2 linked regions of the Homo sapiens genome follow. The gene in region 1 interacts genetically with each later gene. Each region holds a gene or a part of one and is shown on either strand. Other genes may lie near its edges. The genes, in order: GNL2 and MPHOSPH6.

Region 1 (3,826 bases):
CCAAAGATAAGTTCTTACGGAGCAAAGCATGATATCAAAAGGTATGCATGCTTTTTGATAGGCAGCTGCCACATTGCTCTTGAGAAAGGGTTTAATTTCATTTCCCTTGGGCAGTGCTAGAAAGCTCTCATTCTCGTCCATCTCATGTCTCTTAAATGAAGTGGAGGTTTTGCTGTCTTAGTGAAGAGGCATTGTCCTTTGACTGCATCAGTGTTATTACCTCATTGCTATTGTCAGCCCATCTTCAAGCATTGGGCCACCTAGAGATAAAATGTCAAGCCATTTGAGGCCAAGCAAAAAGAGGCAGTGAGTTCATTTATTTGTTCTTAGAATTATTTGAACTTTCGTTGGCTTTGTATTCTGCCGATTTGAATTTTTCCTTCCGCAACAGGTATAGTAGGTAATGCAGTAAAGACAAAACTATTTTTGTTTACCTTGGGTAAATGTCCTAGAGACTAGTAAATAAACAGATTCTAAACCTTATCAGAAAAATACTGCTGTATATGGGAGCTATGGAGTATAGGTTGTGATTCAGGTCCTGCCAATTCCATTTTGTAATTCTCTGTGACATACTGCCTAATTCAGTCATGCTTTTTTTTAGTTTAATGTTTTATTGTGGTAAAATATATGTAACAAAAAATGTGGCCAGACGCAGTGGCTCACACCTGTAATGCTAGCACTTTGGGAGGCTGAGGCGGGCGGATCACCTGAGGTCAGTAGTTTGAGACCAGCCTGACCAACATGGTGAAACCCAGTCCCTACTAAAAATACACAAATTAGCTGGACGCAGGGGCGCACACCTGTAGTACCAGCTACTTGGGAGGCTGAGGCTGGGGAATCGCTTAAACCCGGGAGGCGGAGGTTGCAGTGAGCCAAGATCGCACCACTCATTCCAGCCTGGGCGACAGAGCGAGACTCCGTCTCAAAAAAAAAAAAAAAAAAGTACTCTTCTAACCATTTGATGTGATCTCGGCTCACTGCAATCTCTGCCTCCCGGGTTCAAGCGATTCTCCAGCCTCAGCCTCCCGAGTGGCTGGGATTACAGGTGCCCGCCACCACGTCTGGCTAATTTTTTTGTATTTTTAGTAGAGACAGGGTTTCACCATGTTGGTCAGGCTGGTCTCGAACTCCTGGCCTTATGATCCACTGCCTCAGCCTCCCAAAGTGCTGGGATTACAAGTGTGAGCCACTGTGCCCAGCTCTTCTAACCATTTTCAAGTGTACAGTTTAGTGATACTAAGTTCATTTACATTGTTGTGCAATCATTGCAGCTATCCATCTCCAGAACTTTTTCATCATCCCAAACTGAAACCCTGTACCCATTTAACACTAACGGTCCGTTTCCCCTCTCCCCCAGCCCCTGGTAACAACATTCTACTTTCTCTCTCATGAATTTGACTGGTTTAGGTGCCTAATATAAGTGGAATCATACAGTATTTGTCCTTTTGTGTCTGGCTTATTTCACTTAGCATAATGTCTTCAAGGTTCATTCGTGTTGTAGCAGGTGTCAGAATTTTCTTCTTCTTTTTTTTTTTTTTTTAATTAATTATTTTTTGAGACAGGGTCTTGCTCTGTCACCCAGGCTGGAGCAGTAGCCTGCTCATGGCTCACTGCAGCCTCAACCTCCTGGGCTCAAGGAGTTCTCCCACCCCAGTCTCCCCAGTAGCTGGGATTACAGGCATGCACCACTATGCCCAGCTAATTTTTGTATTTTTTGTGGAGATGGGGTTTTGCCATGTTGCCCAGGCTGGTCTCGAACTCCTGGGCTCAAGCAGTCTGCCCTCCTTGGCCTCCCAAAGTGCTGGAATTACAGGTGTGAGCCACTGAGCCAGCTGGAATTTCCTTCTTTTTTAAAGTTGAATGCTATCTTGTGTATATATGTGCCACATTGTGTTTATCCATTTATTTGTTGACAGACATTTGGGCACACTTTTTAAATTCAGTTTGTTTCTGGTCCATCTCCAACTGGGTTTGATACTGTTTTTTTTGGTACATTGACTTTACCCTAAAGCATCCTTTTAGTCTTGATGGTGCTTCAGTTGCTCATTTGGGGTGCTTTCTTATTTAGAAATGAAGCTCAAGAAGAGATCTATAAAAAGGGACAGTCCAAAAGAATATGGGGTGAGCTCTACAAGGTAAGACTCCTAAATTCTCTCCCATTGAGTGGTTCCTTGGGCTTTCATGATTTTGTAGAAGAAAACTAATTTTGATATATTGAAGCTCTGTTGCGCAGAGTACAGGCACCACTGCCTGTTCCATCCTCTTCCTCCTACAAAGAAACTCGGAAGGCGTACTACCATTGATCTAGGTAACTGCATTTTTTAAAGTACTTGTATAAGAGTAACAGCTATCTTTTATTATACAATCACATATTTATTACCTGTCAGTATTTTTTAAGATTTCCTGCCAAATTTATCATGCCTAGTTAAAGTCACATGCAACATTTTAAGTTATTTAGTCCACCCCTCTCCTTTTATCGATGAGGACTCCTGTCTAGAAAGGTTTAATGCTGTACCTAGCTCGACTAGCTTGTTAGTGAAGGAGGCTTTGTATATCTTGATTTCTGATCCAGTGATCTTTAACCGGCAGAGGTTTATGTCCATGCACTAATAATAACCTTCAGAAGAAAAATTTTCAAGTATAATCACGTAATTAAATAGTAACATGATAGGAAACTAGTACCGTGAAGGCAAGCTAAACTTTGTAGTTTTTTGTGAAATACACAAAACCTATAATATTACAAACTTAAAGATAATATTACAAACTTAAAGAAGTCTAAGAAGTAAATGATTTAGTTCAATAATCCATAGTAGTTAGGAAATAAGTTGAGTTTCATCTAAGCTAGTTTTTCTGTTTTAAATTCAGCAGGTTTCAAAAGCCACAGGATGAAAAACCTTTTGAATTCTGATCACTGGGCCTTGAGATTAGCCACAACGAACTCTGCCCAGAGACTGTTTTGAAGTTGTCTCTAAATATTATTATTTTATTTTTCCCAGACTCCCTTAAATGTCATCCCTCTTTTATTTGTACTGTAGCAAACCATTTTTGCCTTTCTGAATTTTCAGGTGATAGATTCATCAGATGTTGTAGTTCAAGTTCTTGATGCTAGAGATCCAATGGGTACTCGTTCCCCTCACATTGAAACTTACCTGAAGAAGGAAAAACCTTGGAAACACCTCATTTTTGTACTTAACAAATGTGACCTTGTTCCAACCTGGGCAACAGTAAGTACAACTACTAAACCAGAATAGACTATTAAGACATCTGTTAGTAAGTCAGTTGTAGGGCTTTTAGGCTAAAGTGTTGTCCGGCTGAGATTGTAGTAATGGGAGTGCTCTCATTGGAAACACGAAAGTGTGCTCATTGATAGTGGGCAGAGGCACCAGGAGACGGCTTCTGAGGCCACTGCCTGCTTCACATTATGCTCCATTAATTGCATTTAGTAACAATGAAGACATTTTTTGGAATATTGTTTTGTATTTATAAGACAGAAGAACAAAGCATTAACTGTTATACTTGGAAAAAACATTTCAAAGAATTATAGCTAACATTTTCCTTAGACAACAGTATATTTGAAACAGTTCTGTAATTCAAGCTCTGATTCTTCCACATAATGTAAATAAATGTACTGCAGTTTACCAAAATGTTTTCATCTCTCCTTCTAGAAACGGTGGGTTGCTGTCCTCTCCCAGGATTATCCAACACTTGCTTTCCATGCAAGCCTTACTAACCCGTTTGGCAAGGGAGCATTCATTCAGCTTCTGCGGCAGTTTGGAAAGGTATTGAGCCCTGATCTGTTTCTCCTGGAGTTGTGTAGCTGTGAGTT
Region 2 (3,108 bases), on another chromosome or scaffold:
TTTCACAGGTTCCCTGGTGGGGAAAATCATCCCCAGTTAAGAACCACTTCTCTAGGAGCCACAGTTAACTAAGCCAATTGCCAGAGTTTATTGAAAGATTCTAGGTTAGTTTTCCTTTTCTTTTTTGGCGGAGTGGGAGGAGGCATGTGTGATAATTAAGGTGTTATGTTAGAAGTGTTTGTTTTTAATATATGCTGGTCTCGCTTTGACTTTCTTTAATTAAGCTTCAGATTGAGAAGGAGAGGGGCTGGGCAGTGGGGTGAAGAGGGAAGAAAAAGGCAGGGATTATGAAGATGTGGTATTCAAAGAGTAGGGTTTGGATAGGCGAGCATTCCAAAGTATGTCTGCTGCAATGGGAAAGGAGAGGTGCCACTGCCCGCAGAAATTGATGGGGGGCAGGGACGGGTGTTAGAAAATGGCCCTAATTACTGGATTCTGAAACACTGAATACACTCCCCCTAGGAAAAGGTTTTAAACTATTATCACTCTTTTAAGCCTTAGAAAAACTAGTTAAGACTGATTTCTCATCTTTTATTCCTTCTCCTCTTGCTAAAAAGAAGAGATTACACATTTAAAAAAAAAAAGGTCAGAGGATAATTATCACAAAAAGGTTTATGTGAAAGAGTTGGAGGAGAGACCCTGTGGTGCATGGATGTTACATGGGATGCATTATCCACTCTAAAGTTTAGGAGGGTAAGGCTGAGGTGCAGATTCCCTCCATTAAACAGGGCCAGCCTTCCACTTCTCCCACCTCCTCCACTCACCACCACCACCACCAAGAGATGCATTTAAAATTATTACTGACGACTAGTGTTTCTTCCATATGGCTTAAAGATGGGTGGGGGAAGTTCAGGGAAAATCTGAAAGTTTATTATTTCTTCCCCCACTCACCGGAATGTGTCAGCAGTATGCCTGCTTTAAATATGAGTAACTAATACTAAGATTTATGATCTTAAATACACTTTAAATTCACCCTAAGTATAATTCAGTGGGGCTTTGCCTTACTATTTTTTTGACTCAGAGCTTACTTCTCTTACACCATTGTGGTATCAAGTATTACAGAGAGTCCCTTATCAATTTTGACTAGTTCTCTAGATTATTTGACTTCAGTTTCTCTGCCTTCAGGTAAGTTTGACATCAGTTCCTTTCACAAGCGTTTTCTAGCCTGAAGGTCAGCACTGGTGTATTTTTCAGAAATTGATGCTTCAGATGAATGCTAAGCACAAAGCAGAAGAAGTTGAAGATGAAACAGTAGAGCTTGATGTGTCAGATGAAGAGATGGCTAGAAGGTAACCGTGCTGCGCAGCAGCCTTCTAATCTGGACCTAGCATTCATTGGCTCTCCCAGGAATGCTCCTCTTACCCCACAGTGCACGGCAGCTTTCAAGGGAGTCCCCCAGTAGGACGATGACTGTGATCGGCCTTCTCTTAATGGCCTACGGGGGCCACAGACCTGTCTCAGGCTGCCAGTTGAGGGCCCATTTCCAGAGCTGCTGGAAATGTGTATTTTAAAATGTACATCTCTATTTATTTAGGGTAATGCAAACACCAAAATGGCAAGGAATTTAATCACTCTTAGAGAAGTTCATAAATTGTTAAATCAGATGGTTTCTTTTAATGATAGTTTTCTTTTTCGTAATCTTTTTTATTGCATATTTGGTCTGATATTCTTGACAAGGCTTGATCCCTACCTTTTTATTTGAAATTAAACGTGTGCTGCCTGTCCTCTTGACAGATATGAGACCTTGGTGGGGACAATTGGGAAAAAGTTTGCCAGAAAGAGAGACCATGCCAATTATGAAGAAGATGAAAATGGAGACATAACACCAATTAAAGCAAAGAAGATGTTCTTAAAGCCCCAGGATTAAGATGGATGCCTTAAGCGATGGCCCAGGGGTGCTTGGTGGAAGTCAGCAGGGCATCTGGAGCTCATCCCAATGGTGTCTCTATAGTTATTAATACTGTAACGTTTACTTGTAAAGAGATTATCATTTTAGAAACATGCTGTTTTTGAAACAGATGTGTGATGGATGTTGTACATCCTTTGCTTCTTGGTATTCATTCAGAGTGGATTTTTAGCCCCTGATCTACAAATGTACATTGTTACAGGGCTGCTTCCTAAAGATTTTTTTTACCTCAGGTTTCTCTTAATATAGTTCTCCAGTCACTGACCTTGAATTGACTTACATAAACTACTGCCAATGTTTAAATTGCCCTTATGTTTATATTTATTATGTCAAGCCAATTCGTACATACAATTTGGAATCAAATGTCATAAGAATTTATTATATAAATTTATCAAGAATAAAAATGCCTCTCCAGCCTTAAGTATTTACATGCTCCCAGGTCATTGTCAGTTTATGGTATTATGTTGTTTTATTTAAAGCATTGAATTGATAGAAAAATTTGCTCTGTAATAAAAATCTACTTTCACATACTTTTTATATTTTCTTGTACTTTCAAATAACAATTTTAGTCTAATTCAGTAATATAACTTTTTTCCAAATAATAACTTTAAAAAACAGCCATTGATCAGAATATAGTGATGTATTAGGTTGAACCATAAGAAATTGCCTTTTACAGGTCAAAAATAACCTTTAGTTTCTTACGGTATAACCCAACAGAATTTACCACTGACCAATGGTACCATCTCCTAGTCTGAACTCTATTCTAAATGCTAAGTACAGAAAGAAGCACATAGAATTAAGTGTGTGTATGTGTGTCTGTCTTTCTGTCTGCAGATAAGTACCTAGGACTTCTGAGAACTACTGATTTAATTTCGCTCCCAGGAAGTGAATGAGGTACATGTCTCCTCTCTCCTCAAATCTCTGTAAGGAAGGTTTTATTGCTCTGTGACCTCAGTTCTCTGGTGAGTTATGAGAAAAGATAGGACTTTGAAGTTAATCTGGCCTTTTTTTTTTTTTTCACTGTGAGTATGAGAATGATGCACCTCCCAACTCTGGGAAGTAACGAGTTCTTCCCAGTGCCTTACCAGCACCACAATCCACGGACTTACTACCGGACTTACTACGTGTCTTATGTACCTGTCTGCACAGTCGACTTCTGATTGACAAACTCATTTCACCATAAAAGAAGTGGGGTAATGGGG

The links.
Region 2: changes in GNL2 (region 1) and MPHOSPH6 together harm fitness more than expected from each alone (negative genetic interaction), as found in Homo sapiens cells (one large-scale study listed by BioGRID).

Annotation. Positions count from the first base shown.
Region 1 is NC_000001.11:37,582,176-37,586,001, reverse strand, and holds part of GNL2 (nucleolar GTP-binding protein 2), read left to right. Parts: intron 1-2,068; coding exon 2,069-2,135; intron 2,136-3,065; coding exon 3,066-3,224; intron 3,225-3,665; coding exon 3,666-3,779; intron 3,780-3,826. UniProt on the Homo sapiens protein: GTPase that associates with pre-60S ribosomal subunits in the nucleolus and is required for their nuclear export and maturation.
Region 2 is NC_000016.10:82,147,490-82,150,597, reverse strand, and holds the end of MPHOSPH6 (M-phase phosphoprotein 6), read left to right. Parts: intron 1-1,194; coding exon 1,195-1,289; intron 1,290-1,734; coding exon 1,735-1,867; 3' UTR 1,868-2,436; downstream 2,437-3,108. UniProt on the Homo sapiens protein: RNA-binding protein that associates with the RNA exosome complex. Involved in the 3'-processing of the 7S pre-RNA to the mature 5.8S rRNA and play a role in recruiting the RNA exosome complex to pre-rRNA; this function may include C1D.